Homo sapiens: one gene and its partners. The protein of the gene in region 2 interacts with the protein of the main gene of each other region in a pairwise test. Each region holds a gene or a part of one and is shown on either strand. Other genes may lie near its edges. The genes, in order: CNIH3, CEACAM3 and NINJ1.

Region 1 (7,105 bases), on a different chromosome or scaffold from region 2:
GATTAATAATTCAAGAACAGCTTCATTGAGTGGTTTGTGCAGCTGGTTGACATTTGAATGAAAATCAGGTGTTCCCTCATCCAGCACTGGCTCTATCCTCCAGCTTCTCAATGCTCACCCCCTTATCGAGGGGTGGCTGAAATGCAGTCAAATTCCAACTCAGGTTTTATCCAGATTCCTCGTGGAAGTGGCAAGATTCTTGTTTCTAATAATGAAAAGAATTTGTGCGTTTTGATTTCAAATTACGGTAATAATTTCATAGTCTCAGTCCCTCCTTTCCTAGTCTTTTCCTTCTCTATCCCTTTCCCTCTCTCCAAATCAAACAACCCAAACCCCATCACACTGATTTGGTTCCTGAACATTGAACTGGGAAACCAGAGACACCCTGATTTCAGGGCACGGTTTGTATGTCTGGGTGTTAGTTACATGGTAGTAATTATTTCAACCAAAATTGAGGAGACTTGGTTTTATGTTAGACTGTTTGCCTTCTTTCCAGCTTCTTATATTACTTATGTACTTCTTGATCGGACAAGGCATATTGATTGTGTGATATATATCAGTACCCCAAAAAATGAATTGGGCGCTTAACAACATATAGCGGTTAAAATGCCTGCCATGCTGCCATGCCTAGGCTGTAAGATATGAAGATGGCGTGCTTTTCTTATTGAATTGTACGTACCTACTTAGGGGTAATGATGGTAGCTACTATGTATTGGGTGTCTGCTGTAGGACAAGTTTTAAGTACTTTACAGAGGATCTCTCAGTCCAATCGTTTTCCTCCCCTTTTTTCCCACTGGATGTCTGGGAGCAAGGATGGATGTGGCCAGCCTTTCTTTCAAGTCTTGTTTTTTACTTTGAAAATTTATCTGCATTTGTTTTCAGTTGAAAATATTTCAAGTTACCCATTTATTTTATATCAGCTACTATCTCTGAGTACATTTATCACATTTGGAAGAAGCAGAAGAAAACTAGGTTTTTTCTGTGGCTTTGCATACCCTCAGGCACCTGGCCTCTTACTGCCCAGGCAGCCCTTTAGTCCTCATAACGGACATTTCGCAGATGAGGAAACTGGATCAGAGAGATTACAAGGTTGCCTAAGGTTGCACAGCTGATATGTATTGGAGCTGGTATGCATGGACTTGAGCTAGGTCTGTGAGACTCTTAAGCCTAAGCCCTTTCTCTAACTGTAGTCACTATTTTTGGATTCATAACTTAGATAATAATTTATATCCAAAGGATTACCTTTCTCTGTATAAATGAAATTTTAGAGTTGGAATTTCTGATTGGGGTTACAATAGCAACAGCAACCAGACTCAAGACATGCTATATATCCTTTTTTAAAAGAGGAAAATTCTATTTATTTAAATTAGACTTCTGCTTATAAAATGATACAGGTTCCTTGTCCAAAATTTTGAAAATACAATGATTTGTAATTAAATAAAATCATCAGTAATCTTATCCAGAAAAGATTATCTCTTGTGTATTTTAAAAAATTGCATATGGCCGGGCTCAGTGGCTCATGCTCGTAATCCCAGCACTTTGGGAGGTTGAGGCAGGAGGATCACTTGAGCCTAGGAGTTTGAGACCAGCCTAGGCAACATAGTGAGACCCCATTTCTAAGAAAAAAAAATTGCATGTGGACGTTTAGAAGGAAAAAAAAGCGTTCTAAAGGGTTTTTGATGTGAAGTGATATGTATTTCCAGCCAGTATAAAATGAATGGTGTTTACTCACAAGAGCCTTCTCTGCTCCGGCTCGGTTAAGCCTGTTTGCAGTGTGTCTCATTTATATAAACACAGATGAAGCTATTCTTTGAAAAGATCAAAGATTCAGTACTGAATTTCAGGTCTTTAGCTTTTGAAGTTTTTATATTTGGAGTCACTATGAGTTTTGACAATTTACAAATAAAATTAATTCCCAATAAAATTCCCTAGAAAGATCTGATGCACCATCTCACCTTGAAATTTCTTTGGATTCACAGCAGCATTTGCTGTTTGAGGGTTTAAATGGCCCTGGACAGGGATGACATACATATGTGCCGAGAGGCAGTTTTGTTAGAGAAGATGTCTTCATGGTGGAGTGTTTTGCCAGTTCCACCTTGTCACAGGCTCAGCCTCTGGAAGTCTAGTAAACATCTCAGTTTCTCACAGTACCCACCTGGAAACAAAAAATGGGTTTATGTGAAATGGTAGGATGCTTGGGGTTGACAATAAATAGCCTGTTTTTTTATGACCCTGCCTTGGCCTACTCAGATGAGGGTACTGCACTCACTGCCAGGTCTTACTTGGTCTCCACTTTCTGTTCTACTTGTGATGCCCCTGTCCGTTCTGGCATCTCACTTTCAGGTGGGATGTCCGCAGCTCCAGCCTGCTCCATCCCCCTTTTATCTCCTCCCTCCGTCACTGTCCATTGCCCCACAGCTGAAGTGGAAGGAAGCTCCATGAGAGCAGGGACGTTTTCTACTTTACCATTGTTTCTCCAGAGCCCAGAACAGTGCCTGACACATAGAGAGTGTTTGGTATAAATACTCATAGGACAAATTCTTGTTTCCTTCTGGCTTGACGCATTTCCAGTTGACATAGTGATATGTTTTGGCTATGTTCACACCCAAATCTCATCTTGAATTGTAGCTCTCATAATCTCCACGTGTTGTGGGAAGGATCTGGTGGGAGGTAATTGAATCGTGGGGGATGGGGTTTTTTTTGTGCTGTTCTCATGATAGTGAATAAGTCTCATGAGATCTGATGGTTTTATAAAGGGCAGTTCTCCTGCACATGCTCTCTTGCTTGCCGCCATGTAAGACATGCCTTTGCTCCTCCTTCACCTTCTGCCATGATCATGAGGCCTCCTCACAGCCATGCTGAACTGTGAGTCCATTAAACTTCTTTTCTTTGTAAATTACCCAGTCTCAGGTATGTCTTTATTAGCAGTGGGAGAACAGACTAACAGTAACTCGTTTCTGATTTGGCTTCTGGCTGCTTCTTAAGGACTACTTTCTGGGTAGTTTGGACAATGTGCATTTTCCCCCATGCCTTGGCACTTTGAAACTTTGGAAGCTAATTATTGCAAAGAAGACTGGCCATTGCCATGGGGTATAGGGCCCTTCTTGATGATAGTGGAGCTGGTTCTCTTTCAGAGGAGCAGATTGGGGAGAAGCACTGGCTATCCCTGGAGAGAACACCTTCTGGAAAATGTAATGTCTGGATTGATGCATGGCACCTTATCATTGTTTGCGTTGCTTGCCGCTTTATCCTTGTTTGCATTGCAATAACTCTCCCTGAAAAAGAAAGCTTACGTCATCATTGTATTTCCACTGCAGTCATGTTAGAGAGGAGAGGAGAGAAGTGTGCAGAATTCACAGGTCACCTAAAACAATCAGGAACCAGCCCCAATCCCAACTGTTTGGTGAGGTTTCAAGGCCTCACTGGGGTTGGATGTTAGAGACACTAAAGTAACTTGTCTTTGACTTTTGAGTTACTGAACAAACATTAAAGGCAGTGAATGTTGTGAGGCTCTTGCCAGGCAATTGGAGCTCTTGCCTATACTGGCCCTGAAGCTGTGCCCAGGCCCTTGCCTCACTCTAGCCCCTCTGGCTACCTGGTGCTTTTCCCTTCTGTATATCCACATGGCTCTGCGCTTTGCCCTCTGGACTTGTTTTCTGCTGTGGACCTCTCTCCCAGTAAGTCTGCAAACAGGTTCCTCTGGGGCCTTATTCTTCAGTAGCTGTGCTATCTGGATGGTGCCTTTGCCACCATCATCTGACTCACTCCTATGGGCCCCTCCACTGGGCACCACTGAGGACTTGGCTCCTGGTCACTGTCCTGTCCTTGCTGTCCTGCAAGGTGCTGGGTGCTGTTGGTTATCTGACCTCCCCTCTAGTGACCACTTCCATCTTTGTGGTCCCTGAGCCCCCTGACCTGCCCTGGACCTGCCTCTGCAGTGAGCTCCCTGTTCTCTACTCCCGCACTCTGCTGCCCCAGGGGCTCTTGGCCCTCCTTTGACTGTGGCTTTTCCTTCTTCTCTCAATGCATCGCTCCTCTAGGATTTACTTCCTCCTCTGTGTCATTACCCCTCATCATCCACCACTTAGCTCCTGCTGCTGCTCTCCACTGCTGCGTCCTCTGTTTCCTGTCGCTCCTGTAGTGGATGCCTCAGTCTCCCAGGAGTCTACTCTCTTCCCTCTCTTCTCTCACCCCAGGTACCCGGGAGCTGCTGGGTCCCAGGCGGATGCACGGTTTGACCTTAGCTGGCCTCAGTATTGCCTTCTAACTCATCAGCTGGATGTGAGTCAGTTCCTTCAGCTTCCACAACACTGTTGTAGATTGTTGTCATTTTCTCAGAGCCCCCTGAAGCTCCCAAAACTGTCCCCCACCCCTGACTGCCTCTGAGCAGATGACTTTAATTCCAGCTCCTGGAGAAGATAGAGATGATCAGACAGGGATGCCTCAGGATCCTGCCCCTCCCCAGAATTCTGATTAATGATTTATTTTTCCTTCTCAGACTCAGAAGCAGCAGAGTCTGTCCCTCATCTGAGGCCACTTCCTCCCCTCCTAGTTATCTGTGGACATTGCTCCATCACTTTTCCCCACCTGTCTGTGTCTTCAGCCACTGCCCTTCGCAGGTCCACCCGTCCCCACCCCCTGGCAGATTCAAAGGCTGTGGTGCCTCTGAGCTGCAGACAAGCCTTTGGTCCCCAGGCCCTCTAAATGCTGCTCAACCTCTCTTCCCTTGCAGAGTGGTTTTGTCTCACCACATCCTGCCTGCCGTCACCTCTTTGGATTCTGACATCAGACACTCAGAAACCACGGAGACTAATAAAACAAAGCCCTCTGCATCCACCACTCAGAATTGGCAAGTGTCAGCATTTTGCTATTTGTGTATCTTATCTCTTTTCCAAAGACACTTGTTTCCTTTCTGGCCACCTGACTTGTGCCCCCGCCCCTTCTCAGCTCAGCACTTGATGAGGACATCAGTGGTCTGTGGCAATCTCTGGGCACCATTTAGTGCTTATCTTGGCCTCTCCGTGGCTTTGAGACTGCTGTCCGTGTCTTCTTTGCAACTGCTTTCAAATGTTGTTTTTCTGGGGCCCTGTTTCTCCTCCATCTCCCCTGTGGGTTCTTCTTTCTGTACCTTCCTCTCCATGTTGGTAGTTTCCTGGCCTCCCAGACCTGTCCCCCGACACTGACCTGTGTGTCCATGGGGCCACCTGCCCCATGCCCCACAGTTGGATCCCAGCCGAGCTTGTCTTCATGCCCTCCTCACTCCTCACAGCCCCAGTGGGTTTAGTCTTCACCCAGAGACCCTCTCTACCCCATCTGCTCCTTCTGTAGTCACCAGCCATGTCTGTCCCCTCCCTTCCATGCTTCCCATCCCTGCCTTGGTTCAGGCCCCCATTTGCTGTTTCTCAGAGCATCGTGGTCCCTTCCAAGCTGGCCTCCTTGGTTATCATCTCCCCTGGACTAAACCACCCCACTCATGGCTACCAAGAGTGATCTAATACCTGAAAGGATCCTTCCATGTTATTCCCAGACTAAAGCTTTTTCTGGTTTCTCTCGCTTTCAAAGTTTAGAGGGCTGGGAGGACCAGGTCCCGGTTAACTGTTTAGCCACATTTTGCATTTTCTGTGTTCCAGATATCCTCACCTTCTTGCAATTCCCAAATGGGCTGTTCTGTCTCCCTGGAATGCTGTTCCCCACTTCATTCTTCACCCGACTGGCTCTGCTGCAGCCTTTGTCCTCTAGGAAGCCGCATTCTCCCTGGCGATCTGAGTCCACTTGTCCTCTGAACCTGTCCCCAGGTCTGAGTCCCACTGTTGTATTTGTCTCTGTGCTTGGACTATAAGCTTCTGGAGGGCAGAAACTGTTGCCCTCACTTGTGGCCTCAGTGTCCAGCATGGGGCAGTATGGTGGGAACTCAGTGATTGCCAATAAATAAGGATCTGGATAATTTATTACAGCCAGCTTAAGCTTGATAGACTCCTCCTCAATGAATACTTTCCCAGACTTACCTGGTTATGACAATCATCTGGATGCTTACTAAAAATGCACATTTTTGTCCGGGCGTGGTGGCTCACGCCTGTAATCCCAGCACTTTGGGAGGCCTAGGCGGGCGGATCATGAGGTCAGGAGATGGAGATCATCCTGGCTAACATGGTGAAACCCCATCTCTCCTAAAAATAAAATAAAAAAAAAATTAGCCAGGCGTGGTGGTGGGCGCCTATAGTCCCAGCTACTCGGGATGCTGAGGCAGGGGAATGGTGTGAACCCAGGAGACAGAGCTGGCAGTGAGCTGAGATGGCGCCACTGCACTCCAGCCTGGGCGACAGAGCGAGACTCCGTCTCAAAAGAAAAAAAGCACATTTTTGGGCTCTGCTGAAGGCCCATGGAATCCTAGACTTGGTAGCTCTCTCTGTGTAAGGGAGGCTAACTGAGCTTCAATCCAGAATTAAGTGGAGGGGAGATGGTGGATGGGATAGATCAGGGTGGTTGAAGGTGTGGAGGAGGGCACTGCTGGGGAGAGGTTGTGAACAACAGACACCAAAGAAGACGAGCTGTGACAGGAAAGGGCTGTCAGATGGTGACTGTAGCCCAGCAACCCATGTCTATGCCCAAAAGCAGAGGATGATGTCGAGGCTGATGCAGGGGGCTGCACGCTAGTCTCTCCAACATCACGTATGTTGATTTTGTGCTTCAAGATAGCGATCCCACTGCTATCTTGTAATACCCATTTTTTTTTTAATCATAGATTGTGAAATACACCTTTCTTCCATCCTTTGACAACTAGGTGTAGATAGTCCCCTTGTGGGTTAGATAAGGCAGATATTAAATTCCAGGCTGAAATCCTTGCCATTCACATTGCTTCTGAGTTGCTTCTTCTTCTAGGACCTGGAGGGTCTTTAGAAAAATAAGCTGAACTGTTTTAATCTAGAGAAGAAGCATTAAGTGAGCTCTGCTACAAATAGTGAGGTCATTTGCATGAGTAACCAACTCAGATCTGCAGGGTTGGAAGTGGTTGCTGTTTGGGATCATTCATAGCCAGAGTGTCTGCATCTTAACAGGGTTAGCTGAGGGTTGCCTGCATTTCTTAATGACACTTGGAATCTGCTTA
Region 2 (7,200 bases):
TCCCTGAACGGGGCTTGTGTTTTCCCATCAGCTCAACTTTGCTCACATGCCCAGCTCAAAACCACATTTCCACAGGCCAGACAAGTGCTCAGTTCTTCCCACACGTAGATGAGTGCTCTGCCTCCTGAGAGCCTGCTTAGCCCTACTGGACACTGTCTTGTTGCACTTATCATCTGCTGCCTTATATTGAAGGCCTTCATATGCCTCTCCTGCCTCCACCCCCTGCCCTTCTAAATTTCAAACTCCTTGGCCGCACAGACTGGTGCACTGTTTCCATATCCCTCACGCTATCCAGCTCAGCACTTGGCAAACATTAGCTCACCACAAGAATGCATCCTCAGGTTTTTAAGTCAGACAAGGGCTTCATAGCAGTTCTATTGACATTGGGGATGAACAGTTCCTTGCGGTGGGGGCTGTTCTGTGCATTGTGAGACGCTCAGCAGCATCCACGTGGCCTCTTTCCACTAGATGCCAATAGCAGCCTTCCCTCTCTCCCGTCCCCACCCCGGTATGAAAACCAAAAATGTCTCCAAACATTGCCAAATGTCCCCTGGGCGGAAACCACCCTCAGTCCACAACCACTACTCTATACCAATAGTTCTCCACCTGGCCACACATTCAGACTCACCTGAACATTTACACTCAGCCTGGAAGTCAGGGGGACCTAGATCCAAATCCTAGCTCTGTCACTCCCTTTGCAACCCTGACAAGTCGCTTCACTTTTTTTTACCCTGTTTTATCGTCTTAAGATGAATAAATATCCCTTCTCACAATCTTGTTGTGAAGATTAAATGATCCGCAGCGTGACCTAGAAAGGGTTTAATAAATGGACTGTGTAGAATTTCTAAGTCGCTCCTAAAGCACGAGGGTGAGGAACTGCGGAAAGTTCTCTGCGCCGCCAGGAGGCGCCATCATAAACCACGTCGGTGGGTGGCCGCCAGGCTCCAGCTTTGTTTCCCAGCCAAGCAAACTTTGCAATGTGGGCCTGAGTCTGAGCTACTTCGTAGCTGGAGGAAATGACACTCCTCCTCATCCCCCAAAATAATTCTCAAAATAAAATCGAATCTTATTTTATCTTTTCATGACATACATGCTCAATATGCTTTTCACAGGGGAGAGGGAAAAAAGAAATGGATGAGAATATATGAGGATATTATGAAAGAAATCATATTTTATATGATTTATAATAGATGACTCATTACTTATAATATTACTTGTTAATCATAAAATTACTTATAATAATAGCTGACATGTTTTAAGAACTCCTGTGTCTCAGGCATTGTTCTAAGCACTTCACATTTATCTCATTTTATCCTCACAGAAATCTTATGCATTTTACATTTTTTTACTTTTCATTTTTCAGACTTTCAAAAATATTGTAAAAATAGTCAGAGTTCCAGTATATCCTTCATCCAGCTTTTTCAAATAACCTTAACTCTAAAGCAATTATCAAAATCAGTCACCTAGCATTGATACAAAAAATTTTAAAATATAGAAATATGGGGCCGGGCACGGTGGCTCACGCCTTTAATCCCAGTACTTTGGGAGGCCAAGGAGGGTAGATCACGAGGTGAGGAGATCGAGACCATCCTGGCTAACACGATGAAACCCCGTCTCTACTAAAAATACAAAAATTAGCCAGGCGTGGTGGCAGGTACCTGTAATCCCAGCTACTCGGGAGGCTGAAGCAGGAGAATCTCTTGAACTCAGGAGGTGGGGGTTGCAGTGAGCCCAGATCGAGCCACTGCACTCCAGCCTTGGCGACAGAGTGAGACTCTGTCTCCAAAAAAAAAAAAAAGAAATATTAAAATTTTGCTAATCATCCCAGTCATGTCTTTTTTCTGCTCCAGAGTCCAACCCAGGATCCCACACTGAATAACACTGTCACATTTCCTAGGCCTCCTCCAACCTGGGGGAGTTTCCCACTCTTTCCCTCTCTCAGGACCTTGATGCTTTTGAGGAGGTCTGGTCAGTTGTTTTGTAGAATGCCCCTCAATTTGGGTTTGTCTCATGTTTCCTTGGGATGTTTCAGGTTATGCATTTTGGGCAAGATTAGCACAGAAGCGATGTGTCTTTCTCAGGACATCCCAGCCGGAGCCCCAGGATGTCTATATCTCTCATTACCGATGAGGTTCACTTTAAGCGCTTGGTTCAGGTGGTGTCTGCCAGGTTTCTCTACTGTGAAGTTACTATTCATCTCATTGTAATTAATAAGTATCTTGTGGACAGGTACTTTGGAAATATGCAAATAGCCAGTTTGTTCTTAGCATACTTTTACCAATTAATTTCTAGAATCCAGAGATAATTGTAGCCGATAAACAATTCTTACTGTGGTGTTAGCCAGTGATTTTCTGCTTCCATCATTGCTTCTACACTGATTAACTGGAACGCTGCTGTAAGAAAGAGCTAGTTCTTCTTTCTCATTTATTTATGTATTCACTTATTTATATATATATCAGCATGGACTCTCAAGTATTTATCGGTTGGACTACATTACTATTATTATTGATTATGTTGCTATATTGTCCCCAAATTGGCCATTGGGAGCTTCTTCTAGTTGGCATTTGTGATACTTTCCACACATCCCCATCATTTTTCAAGTTGTGCCTTACTCTCAGGCCCCGCAAGATGCTCCAGTCTCCTCTTGTGGTTTCCTGCCCCAGCCCTGGAATCAGCCATTTCTCCAGGGAACCCTGGTTCCTTTCATGGGAGAATGATGTTTACAGACCATGGGCGCCCATATGCCCATTGCTAGTAGGTGCCGGTGCTTCTATGCCCTCTAGTGGTCAGAGCTGGGAAATAACACACCCACACTAGTGTACTGTTACCCACATTTCACAAATTAGGTAAATGAGGCACAGAAAAGTTAGGCAACTTGACCAACATCACAGAGAAAATAGGTAGTGGAACTGGGAAATGAAAATAATGACAGATGCACCACAAGTTCTAACAAGCAAAAGTAGCTTTTTCACACATCCACATCAGCAGAAAGCCACAAGCCCAATATTCCGGCGTAGACACTCTTTGAAAACCAGAATTCCACAGCAATAACCACGATGACAACCACCATGTACTCAACACCCGCCTGGGCACGGGGCTCCCACAGCAGCTCACTTATTCCCAACAACTCTGCAAGGAGGATTTTACCATCCTCCTTTTACAAATCAGGGAATCAAGGATCATAGAAGCCACGTGACTTGTCCAAGTCAACATAGTTAAGTGACAGAACCATTAGCTGTCCCCAGGTACATCTGGACATAAAGTTCATGTTTATGCCACTGTGTCAGCATTTCCAAAAACTGATTTTAGGCGAAACGTAAGTAAGCTTTTTAAAAACTTTAATACTTATGCGTTTATTTTAATATACATTGAGAAAACATTTAAGCACACATCAAATCTGTAATTTCATGGACAATATTGCATAAGACAAGGATGTTTTGTCTCCAACTCCTGGCCTCAAGCCATCCTCCCACCATAGCCTCTCGAGTAGCTGGGATCACAGATCTGAGCCACCGATCCCTGCTAGGACAGGATGTTTTGTAAACTAAATTTATTTAGAAAAAAGGATGAAATATATAATAATAAAGGTGGTACAAGCTAGAGAGAAAATCATAAAGTCAGCCTAGAAATGTCTGGTGTCTGGATGACATAAAGCTACAGCACTGTGAAGCCTCATTCTCAGTTACTCCCAGGAAATTAGAGTCACATAATGCTGCAGAAAGAACAGCTCAGAATCTTAGATCCGGGCTTTAGCCCTAGATATATCCATTTGTAGGACCCCAGACATCTCTGTGACCTCCTTGCTGGGAGTAAATCCAACCTTCCCAGACATGTGAGAACAGTAAGAAGACCCTGCACACACAAAGGAGTTTCTCCGTCACAGAGAAAATAACACCAGGTTCAGGGACCCCAGGGACTCTGCATGGTGCTGACAGACCCAAGGCCAAGGCAGAGCAGAGGTCCACGCTGGGGAGGGAGGGTCATCCTGTTATGAAACAGGGATCCAAGTAAGCCTTGCTTCTCAGAGCCTGGTCTGGGGAACTCAAATGTAGACAGAAGGGAGAAAGGAAGAAGAGAAAATGAGGCAAAACTGAGAGGGGAGGGGACAGAGAGGTGACCTGGGCAGAGCTTCACCCATGACCCTGGAAAGTGCTCCTGCCCTGGGAGGAGGCTCAGCATGGAAAGAGGAAGGACAGCAGAGCCTAAGTCACAGTAGCCCTGACTACAGCATTCCTGGAGCCCAGGCTCTTTTCCACAGAGGAGGAAAGAGCAGGCAGCAGAGACCATGGGGCCCCCCTCAGCCTCTCCCCACAGAGAATGCATCCCCTGGCAGGGGCTTCTGCTCACAGGTGAGTGGAGGATTCCTGGGAGTGGGCAAGAGGAGGGATCACAGAGAATGGCTGGGGTCTCCTGGGGAGGATGGGGCTCTGATAGGGGACAGAAGGCTTCTGCTGAAGCCTCAGGGGAGAGAACATCAGAGAGGGACACGGGTCACAACAAGACAATCACATTGAACTGGGATTGATAAGAGGGAGGAAAATCCATTGATCATGTTTTCCAAGTTAATCATTACTGGCCACTACAATTAGAAAATGATAAGAATAAGAATTACATCAGGGTGATACTTTAAATAAAAATATAACCAGGGCACTAAAACCTGTCTTTGACCACCAACCACAAGTTGCAAAATAACCACCACTCCTTAACTCATCCACCAGTATTTGCAATCAAATTTTAGGCACTGGCGTACAACAAATATCAGACAAGTCTCTGTGTTCAAAGAGCTTACACTCTTGCAGAGATGAAGATAGACACCCAAAGAGATCTAGAATGTGAGTTCAGGTGTTGACAAGAGCCCTGGAGGGAACAGAGCAGAAAAAGGTCAGAAAGGGAAGACCCAGGGTCTCTAGAGGAGGTGTCAGGGGAGGGATCTCCCAAGGATGCCCTGATGTGAGCAGGATCTGAGGGCAGTGGGGAGGGAGCCATGCAGACCCCTGGGGAAGGGGATTCCACACAGGAAAATGCCAAGGTTAGAGGTGCTGAAGAAAGAAAGGTCACGTTACTGACCTTGACCAAGTGGGACACACATACACTCTCCAAGGCTGAAGGGTGAAGAGACTCTCTCAGGACCCAGGGCCCCATCTTTCCATCCCAATACATGGGTCCCAATATTGACTGATGCTTTCTCCCTCCTAGCCTCACTTCTAAACTTCTGGAACCCGCCCACCACTGCCAAGCTCACTATTGAATCCATGCCGCTCAGTGTCGCAGAGGGGAAGGAGGTGCTTCTACTTGTCCACAATCTGCCCCAGCATCTTTTTGGCTACAGCTGGTACAAAGGGGAAAGAGTGGATGGCAACAGTCTAATTGTAGGATATGTAATAGGAACTCAACAAGCTACCCCAGGGGCCGCATACAGCGGTCGAGAGACAATATACACCAATGCATCCCTGCTGATCCAGAATGTCACCCAGAATGACATAGGATTCTACACCCTACAAGTCATAAAGTCAGATCTTGTGAATGAAGAAGCAACTGGACAGTTCCATGTATACCGTGAGTATTTCCACATGACCTCTGGGTGTTGGGGGTCAGTTCTACTTCCCACATATGGGATTGTCAGGCCTGGGCTGTGCCTGTGGCCCTCTCTGCATTACATTCTGTATCAGGGTTTGGACATTTAGTGCAGGACACACACGGGGGAGACAAACTTCCACAGATCAGAATTCCTTTCCTGCATCCAGACCCTGCAGACACTCGCTGCAGAGGAAGGACAGTCTGATGGGGGGACTCAGCAGGGCAAGGTCAGTGTCAGAAAAGAACCCCATGGTCTCCCCATGGACCTGACCCTAAGAAAGACCCTGGAGAACTGGATCAGGGCCTGGCCTGAGGGGTCCCCCTAGGATTCTCAGAGAGAAGCTCAACTCTTCCCAGAACTGAGCCCCTGTGCAAATCCCTGTCCCAGATTCCTGACTCCAGGTGACCCTGGGGACCCTAGGGATCCTGTGCCAGGGCTGAGTGAGGCCTCCTGGGCAGGGCTGACTGGGAGCAAGAATTTACCAGCTGTCTGAGGGTCGTGGCTCCTGGAGTTGGTCACCAGCCAGGGTCCAGCCCCAAGAACCTCTCCTGGGCAAGGACAGGGCCTCATCCTTTACCTGAGACTCAGCATGGAGTGAACAGATGGACAAGATTACTAGGGCATGAGCCCACTGCCCAGGGGAACTTAGATGACTCCATGGGAAGTTCAGTATCCCCAGGGGGAGGAAAAAGAAGAGAGAAGATGCTCCCAGCAGCTCCTTTTCCACAAGGGATCAGACTCAGGGACCTCTCTTTTGGAGGCAAATAAGCATAGATGCTGTTCCTTTGGGCAGCTCCTCTATACACAGCTGAGGTCAAGTAATTGTAAATATTTTGAGATTAATTCACAAACAACGTCACAGCCAAATAGCACTTATCCTACTTATTGAAAAAAAAAATTGAGGAACAGGGAGACAGTCACCGACTAGGGTCACACAAGTCAAAGGTGTCAGATTAGAGTCACACGAGGTCTCTCTGCAGCCACAGCTGCCTCTTCTCCACCAGGGGACGGCTGGCGTTATTATTAGACATCTGCAGGCCTGAGACCAGTCCTAAGTTCTCTTTCCTTTTTCTTGGGCATCCACATCTCAGAGGGGGAGATTTTGGTCTGGAGAGTAAGGGGCAAATGGAAAATTAATCAATTTTTCCTGATATAGTTTGGATGTTTATCCTCTCCAAATCTCATGTTGAAATGTGATCCCCAACATTGGAGGTGAGGCCTGGTGGGAGGCGATTGGATCATGGGGGGCTGTTTCTCATGAGTGGCTCAGCACCATCCCCTTGGTGACAAGTCAGTTCTCACTTTGAGTGCACAGGAGATCTGGTTCTTTAAAAGTGTGTGGCGCCTCCACACTCTCTCTTGCTCCTGCTTTTGCCACATGACACCACCTGCTCCCCCTTCTCCTTCCACCATGATTGTAAGCTTGCTGGGTCTCACCAGAAGCCGAGCAGACGCTGGTGCCATGCCTGTATAGCCTGCAGATCCCTGCATCAATTAAATCTCTTTTCTTTATAAATTACCCAGCCTCAGACATTTCCTTATAGTAACAAAAAATAGCCTAACACATTAGCCTAACCTAGAACTAAATCCCTTGTGTCAACAGAGTCAGTGCCAGGAATGTC
Region 3 (7,879 bases), on a different chromosome or scaffold from region 2:
CCTGGCTAACATGGTGAAACCCCGTCTCTACTAAAAATACAAAAAATTAGCTGGGCGAGGTGGTGGGCACCTGTAGTCCCAGCTACTTGGGAGGCTGAGGCAGGAGAATGGCGTGAACCCAGGAGGCGGAGCTTGCAGTGAGCCGAGATCACGCCACTGCACTCCAGCCTGGGCGACAGAGTGAGACTCTGTCTCAAAAAAAAAAAAAAAAGTAAAAAACTAAATTATAGCAGCCTCTGAACAGGATAGTTGTTTTTTTGTTTGTTTGTTTGTTTTTCCTTACTCACACCTAAGAAGTCTGGAGGTGGGCAGCCCAGGGAGGCCTGTGCTGCAGGCATTGTGGATGCAGGTTGCTTCTGTCTTCAGCTCCACTATTTGAGGCTCCCATGGCCAAGGTCTCCTCACGGTCCAATACGGCTGTTGGAGCTCCAGCCATTACATCCACTTTCCAGCCAGCAAGATAGAGGAAGTAATAAAGAATGGCACACCCCTTCTGTTTAGGGTTCCTTCCCTGATGTTGCACACAACATTTTCATTGCCAGAATGTAGCCATAAGGGTACCTCTAGCTGCAGGGGAGAGAGAAATGCAGCTCTGATTCTGGGAAGCCACTGGTGCAGCTCAAAGTCAGCAGCCTGTGACTGAGCAGGAAGAAGAGAACAGATAGTGGGGGATGACTACTCTCTCTGCCACTTTGCTGTGGCAGCTGGGGACAAGAGCTTTGCTAGGCACAGATGTCCATAAATGCAAAGTGGCATCAGCCCCAGCCTGGCCCCTGGGAGCCCCAGTGGGAGAGACGGATGCACAAACAGGAAGGAACAGAGCAGTGTGTCAGGGTGCAGCAGAGGAAGCAGGGGCCAGCCTCCTGCTCCTGCCTGTTCTCTGCCCGCAGTGCAGCTGGACCCCTCCACATCCGCTGGCCTGGCCTCGCTTGCTCTGTAGACGATGGCATCCCACTCCCGAATGCAGATGGCCATAATCCACTTAGCCACTCCCTTGTGGTGGACGTCCACTTTGTTTCTGTTGTTCTGTGGCCTTCTAGGGCCAGCTGTGCCTCGCTGTGCAGCCTGGACACATTGCTTCTCTGTGGTGGACAGCATGAGAGGCTCTCATACCTGCGTGGTGCTCATCTCCCATCACCTCGCCCCTTATCATCCTTGACCTGGCTGTGCCTCCCCTCCCACTGAGCCCTGCCTGGTGACCTTGGCAAGTCCCTCGGCTCTCTGAGCCTCTGCCATCCCATCTTTAGTGTGGGGATGATGGCATGGCACCTCCTCACAGGCCTGGGCTTCCTTCCTCTGTCCTTCTGGAAATGGGGTGGCCACGCTACACACCCGCCTCCCTTACCTCCCTGCTCTGTACACTGACCCAGTGAGAGCTGTGGTCCCTGGGGACCGCCTGATAGAAATGCAGACTCCTGGGCCCACCCTGATGCCAGGTAACAGCTCCTTCAGGTGGGTGGGGAATGGATGGGCCACGCCTGGTGCTGGCAATACCACAGGCTTCCAGGGAGTTGCCATTGCCCTGGGCCGACTGCCAGCCCCGTCCTCCTCCCGCTCATGTTAGCAAGAGCATGTGCAGGCGGGCAGGTGGGCATGCAGAGCTGGGTCACCTCGGGCATGCTGCGCCACCTTGCCAGACTCGCTTTCTCCCTTGGTGATGTGGAAACGGCATACCTGCCTGCAAGCCTCTCCGAGGTGGAGGAGGCCAGGGACTGGCTGCTTCTGAAGGCTTTCTGTAGGTGAAAACATGGTCCATCTGACCCATGGACCTTTCAACAGCTTGGTGCTTTCACCGCATGTTCCCCCAGGTCTGAGAGACACAACTGTACTCCCCATAGTACGCGGTGGGGGTCGCTTAGACCGTGCTTAGTCCCAGCTCCTAGGACAGTGGGTGAGTAGAAGGTCCAAGCCTCCGGTGTGCCTGTTCTCTGCCCCACTGGGGTCTCATTCTTGGTCAGCGGGATGGAGCCACCTGCTTGAGGTGGCACTGTGAGGAGCACGCTGGGGTGACACCTCCATGGTCCTCACATGCCATCTTGCCTTATACCCACTTTACATATGAGGAAGCACATCCCAAGCCAGAAGGGGCAGATCTGAACTCAACACAACGCCAGCCCCAGAAGAATCCACTAGAGTCTTTGATGGGGGAGAGGGATGCACCAAGCCTCCCTGGGCACCAGAGAGGCATCCTGAGATACCCTGTGGGCTCCTCCACAGAGGCCTGGGGCCCTCGTACATATACAGTGTTTGTGTGTGCACACCCACCCACACATAGGGCTGCTCTGCTGGGGCATCTGCCAGCCCGTTCCTCCCAGCCACACCCCTCCTCTGTGTCTCTCCTGGGGACATGTCCCTCAGCTCAGGGTCAGCGTCTAGAAACTGGTCTTGGACAGCTCATGCACTCATGGTCTCCAGGAGAACTTGAAAGTAGGTGGTTGGGCCCGGTGCAGTGGCTCACGCCTGTAATCCTTTCACTTTGGGAGGCTGAGGTAGGCAGATCACAAGGTCAGGAGATCGAGACCATCCTGGCTAACATGGTGAAACCCCGTCTCTACTAAAAATACAAAAAATTAGCCAGGCGTGGTGGCGGGCGCCTGTAGTCCCAGCTACTCGAGAGCCTGAGGCAGGAGAATCGCTTGAACCTGGGAGGCGGAGCTTGCAGTGAGCCAAAATCGCGCCACTGCACTCCAGCCTGAGCAATAGAACGAGACTCCATCTCAAAAAAAAGAAAAAAAAAAGGTAGATGGAGGTGACACGGGGTACACTGTGCCTTTAAGACTTGTCCTGGGTTGGATCCAGCAGAGAACAGTTGGGTAAACAGCATTGAGCACAGTGGGGAAAACAGACACTACATACTCAAATGAGGATGACGGAGCAGACGAGGGAACTCCAGCGCTGCAGCCTGCCTGAGCCCTGACACCCACACGTCCTGCCAGCAGCCCCAGGAGCTGAGGAAACTGAGGCTGGGAGAGGGTCTCAGACGGCCAGCACAGAGCAGGTTTACAAACCCCGAGGCTGATGTCCCAACTGTCACTGGTGCTGCGACCCTCCCGGCTTCCTCTTAGAAGGTGGGAATGGGGCCAGGCGCAGTGGCTCATGCCTGTAATCCTAGCACTTTAGGAGGCTGAGGCGGGCAGATCACCTGAGGTCAGGAGGTGATCTGGCCAACATGGTGAAATTCTGTCTCTACCAAAAATACAAAAATTAGCCGGGCGTGGTGGCGCACACCTGTAGTCCCAGCTACTCAGGAGGCTGAGGCAGGAGAACGGTGTGAACCCGGGAGGTGGAGCTTGCAGTGAGCCAAGATCGCACCACTACACTCTAGCATGGGCGACAGAGCAAGACTCCATCTCAAAAAAAAAAAAAAAAAAGGATGGGAATGATGAACCACACTGCAGGAGCTCCCACATGGCACAAAGGAAAGAATACTCTCAGGACGGGGTCTCCACCTGCCAAGCCCTCCTACTTCGGGGCCTCTCTACACGCCCTTGGCCTTCCAAGGTCTCAGGGCTCCCCTGCAGCTCCCAGGGCCCTTTCTGGGTGTGACGTATTTTCTCTGTGGTCCCACACCTCCTGCCCCTCCAGGAATTGAGCCCTCGTGGGCAGGCACTATCCCCCAGAATAGGGATTTGTCCCATACTGTGAGAGAGTTTTTTGTGTGAATGGTGCTGGATTTCCAGCTGCTGGTGAACACTCAGGTGTGCCAACAGTGCCCTGATTATGCGAGGACAACAGCAACCATCCCCGTCGTGGGCCACCGTGCCAGACCCTGTCCTGCAGATCCCCTCTGAGGCAGAGCTGGGGCAGTGACAGCCTGAGCCTCAGTTTCTCTGCTGTGAAGTGGGCCCACGACAGCTCCTCCTTCATGGGATGACCCCGTTTGGAGGATCAGGGCAAGCGCAATCCTGCTGCCCTGCCCATGCCCACTCACTCCTACCTCCTGTCCCGGTGGCAGCCTGACTGGACAGAGCCTGGGGTCTGAGCTGGCCTTCCTTCCACTGCCCTTCTGGAAATAGAGTGGCCATACTGCCGCAAGCTGACTATGCTGTGGTCAGGATGAACTCCCCTGGCCTCCCAGGGTGGCCGCCACATGCTCTCGACCCCCAGGCCCCCAGATGGGCAAAGTGCTGAGGAATGAACATATGGAGAAACAGAGACCAAACAACCACTTCAATCATACAACAGGTGGGGGCCCGCCTAGCATCTGGCCAGGGCTCTGGGCACTGTGCTGCCCCCAGCCCACCCCCTGCCACAGGTGGCACAGATGGGCCCATGAGTCAGCGCACGTTCATCCCCTTTGTGCCTCCCCCAGCCCCTCCAGCAGTCTGTGCCCTCATAACCCCCATTTCCCAGGCAGGAAAACCTAAGGTCAGGGAGTGGGAAGCCCTGTGTCAGCGTGGCCCGCAATCAGGGGAACCCCGGACTCTCTGACGCTGTTACTAGGGGCGCAGCAGGCGCTGTGCTGGAGCGATCTGCGGTTCCCAGGGCGAACCCCGCCTGGGAAAAACCCAGCGTGGGCGCCAGCGGCAACGCCCGCTCGCTTTCATGCAGTTTGCCTGGTGGCCAGGGAAAGGTCGTTCTTGGCCTCATTTTGTGGATTAAAAGTGTCCGCGACGGAGGTTCAGAGCAAGACGCAGCGCAGGGTCCTCTGGGGCCATCGGCGTCGCGCCCCCTCCCTTGTGGGGCCCCGCGGGACCGTCTCAGGCCCGAGGGGTTGGGGTCGCCCCAAACTGCGCGCTCTCAGCGTACAGCCTCCAGGCCCCGGGCCCGCCCCGGGTGGAGGCGGAGTCTGGGGCAGCAGCTCGCCGCCGGGCGGGCCGGGGGCGGGCCGGGGGCGGGCGCGCAGCTGGAGCCTGCGGCTGAGGCTCGGGCGCGCTCAGGCCCGGATCCTGGCGGCCTGGGCGGCCGCACCATGGACTCGGGAACCGAGGAGTACGAGCTCAACGGCGGCCTGCCTCCGGGCACACCCGGCTCCCCGGACGCCTCGGTAAGACCTTCCCCCCACCGCTGCATGATCTTGCCAGGCCCTGTCCTTTCGGGGCGCCGCGGCTCCCCGGGCACCTGTGTGCGCCGCGTCCGCACTGCAGAGTGTTGGGGGACGTCCCGCTCTAGGCCAAGTCCTTCCCGCCCCATCAGGGTCAGAACGATGCCCCCGGGAGCTCCAGCCACCCCCGGCAAGTGGGCGGGACGAGGGGGCGTGGGGGCGCAGGGCGGGCTGGCGTCCCCAGCCCCACTAAGCAGCGCCCGCGCTTGGCTGCACGGCGGAGGGGGCCTCGGCGCAGCTCCTCGGGCTAAGGACTGCCGGCGCCCGGCTTTCCCGACCTCCCCCCCACTCTCGCGCGGGCCTCTCTAACTTCAGCCTCGCCGTGCCGGCTCCTCCGCGCACTTTGCCCGGAGGCGGGCGGAGGGGAGTCACAGCCTCCGGGCTCCAGACCAGCTGCATGCAGACAGTTACGTCACCCCACGCTGACCACACAATCTGATGCGTGCCTTGATGGGGGAACTTGGGGCCCGCTGTGGTCCCTATTCCACTCACCTGCCTTGAGAAATAGAAACGTCACACAGCCTTCAGTGTATGCCGCCACCGGCCCTCCAGAACTTGCCCTGCCCGGCCTGGGAGGGCTGTGGGCAGGGGGCAGGCCCTGGTAGTGGTCCCGCTTCAGAATTCTTCATCCCAGGACTCAGCACTTACTGAGCACCTTGTGTTTGTTGCAAGGTCCTGGCATGGCCCTCTGGTGACTTGTTTACTTTGAACATTCTTTCCTTTTCTAACCCCCTCAGGGATGGGGGCAGGGAACAGCAGCCTGTTGGGTTTTTCCAGGCCTCTCCATGGCGTGGACCAGACTGGGGCAAAGACACTCTGCCCACTCGCTGGTGAACAGTCCTAGGCCGGTGCTGTGGGGACAGGACATGTTCGGGGAGGCGGGGCCCCATGAGCCACGGGATAGGATGGCCCTGGGGCTGCATGGACACTTGTTCCTAGGTTAGAGAGGAGCTGTCGCACTGCAGGACTTGACCGGTGTGCGGGACCCCAGCGACCTGGCCCTGCCCCAGTGTGTGAGCACTTTGGAGCAATAGGCAGGGGGCTCCTCCGGCTGTGTGTCCTTGGGAAGTTGCCACACCTCGCTGGGCCTTTTAGACATGGTCTTATAAAGAGAGAACAAAGGGTCTCTCCTGCCTTCAGGGAAGTGGGGAAAGCAAGTCAGGTAATAAACAGGTCAGTGGCTTGGAAGCGCCTTGGAAAGGAAGGGATACTGCTCCTCCCCCAACCCTGACCTTGCCCGGGCAATGCCCTCCACTCAGAGCAGTCTCTGCTCACTTCTGCGGGCGGCAGGATAGGCTGTGCCTCCTGAGATGGGTGCATCTCAAGCCCAGAGGAGATTGGGTTGGATTTGTTCCCGGATCACTGTCTTGGCTCTGGGCACCAGAGGGAGAGAGACACAGCCCCGCCCCACCAAGCCGCGGTTGGAGAGCAGCCCAGCCCAGACAGGGCAGGAGAGGCCAGGGCAAAGCAGGGGGTTCCCTGGGGGCTGGGAGCCCATCGTGGGGGGCGGGGCATGGTGGTCAGGGAAGGCTTTCTGTGGAGGTGGGGACATTGGCTCTGAGCCCTGGAGGGCAGGGAAGGTGGGTGAGCAGATCTGGCTCTCTGAGATGTGTGGAAGGGCATCTAGGCAGAGGGAACAGTGGGAGCAAAGGCTCAGAGGCTGGACCACAGAGCACATGAGGGCCAGGTAGGAGGTGGGGGGATGGGAAGCCAGGCCGATGGGAGGGGCCTTGCAGGCCTGATCACGGTCTGGTGTCCAGGGAGCTGTGGAAAGGCTATGAGCCAGTGTGAGGATGAGCACATTTCCCCTTGAGGGGTAGAAAACTTCGAGGGCCGCTCTGCTCACCCAGCCTGGGGGCCCAGGACCACCCAACACACCTGTTCCTCTTCCCAACCTCAAGACCTTGCTTCTCCGTTTCTTGGGCACATCATGTCAGCACTCTGTGCCTCAGTTTCTCATCTGTGAAATGGGTGTGGTCGCGGTGCCTGCCATAGAGAGTGGTGAGGACTCAGTAGCTGATGTATATGAAGTGCTTAGAGCCAGGCCAGCACTCAGCGCCCTCATCCTTCTGCCTGCCACGGAGACCCTCTCCCACTGGTGACCCCTGGCAGTGGTTTGGAGAGGGCAGCGCTTTGCCCAGCTCCCTCAGTTTCCTTTTCTGTAAAATGGAGAGTCTCAGTTTCCTTTTCTGTAAAATGGGGCACAACTGCTCACCTCCCAGGGTGGACAAGGCTCAGGGAGGAGCCACACGTGGAACTCCAACCTGGGTGGGCTCTGTTGGGCCACGGCCGTGGGAAGCTCTCAGGTCTCCCCTACCCCGTGTGCCCTGCGCCCCTGTGGCCCTTCATGTGAGGGCCCCCATCAGTGTCCAGGGATTGAGTCAGCTCACTTGTGGCTGTCAGCAGAAGGAATAGTAAACAACAATGTTAATGTGAAAATGGCCTGAATCTGTTATCCCCAGGGTGTCTCAAGGCAGGGAGGTGGTGGGGATGGGGTTAGGACACGGCCATCTGGTGCCAGCCACACCTTCCTGCCCCTCACAGCCCGCAGGTTGAAGGTTCCTGGGGCCACATCTGGGCCGAGAGGCATGGTCCTTGGAGGTAGGTAGCTGTGCCCTGTATACCTGCCGTCTGGGCCGTGCATGGCCTCAGCTGCCCAGGAGGAGGTTTGCTCGTTTCCTCATTTCCGCTTTCCTGGCAGATCCTGAGGCCGGCAGGGTCTGGGCCAAGTTCTAAAAGGCAACCCTAACATGGTCTCAGGGCCACTCGTGGCCAGTGCTGAGTCCGCGGGAAGTGGGTCTGCCTGGCCCAGCTGTGGTGGGAACCCCGCCTTCC

The links.
Region 1: the proteins of CEACAM3 (region 2) and CNIH3 interact in binary tests that used the Homo sapiens proteins (3 or more experiments, as listed by UniProt).
Region 3: the proteins of CEACAM3 (region 2) and NINJ1 interact in binary tests that used the Homo sapiens proteins (3 or more experiments, as listed by UniProt).

The regions. Positions count from the first base shown.
Region 1 is NC_000001.11:224,619,217-224,626,321, forward strand, and holds part of CNIH3 (protein cornichon homolog 3), read left to right. Parts: intron 1-7,105. UniProt on the Homo sapiens protein: Regulates the trafficking and gating properties of AMPA-selective glutamate receptors (AMPARs).
Region 2 is NC_000019.10:41,792,393-41,799,592, forward strand, and holds the start of CEACAM3 (cell adhesion molecule CEACAM3 isoform 1 precursor), read left to right. Parts: upstream 1-4,194; 5' UTR 4,195-4,285; coding exon 4,286-4,349; intron 4,350-5,196; coding exon 5,197-5,556; intron 5,557-7,200.
Region 3 is NC_000009.12:93,131,251-93,139,129, reverse strand, and holds the start of NINJ1 (ninjurin-1), read left to right. Parts: upstream 1-4,878; 5' UTR 4,879-4,912; coding exon 4,913-4,987; intron 4,988-5,536; exon of another isoform or gene 5,537-6,118; intron 6,119-7,588; exon of another isoform or gene 7,589-7,645; intron 7,646-7,879.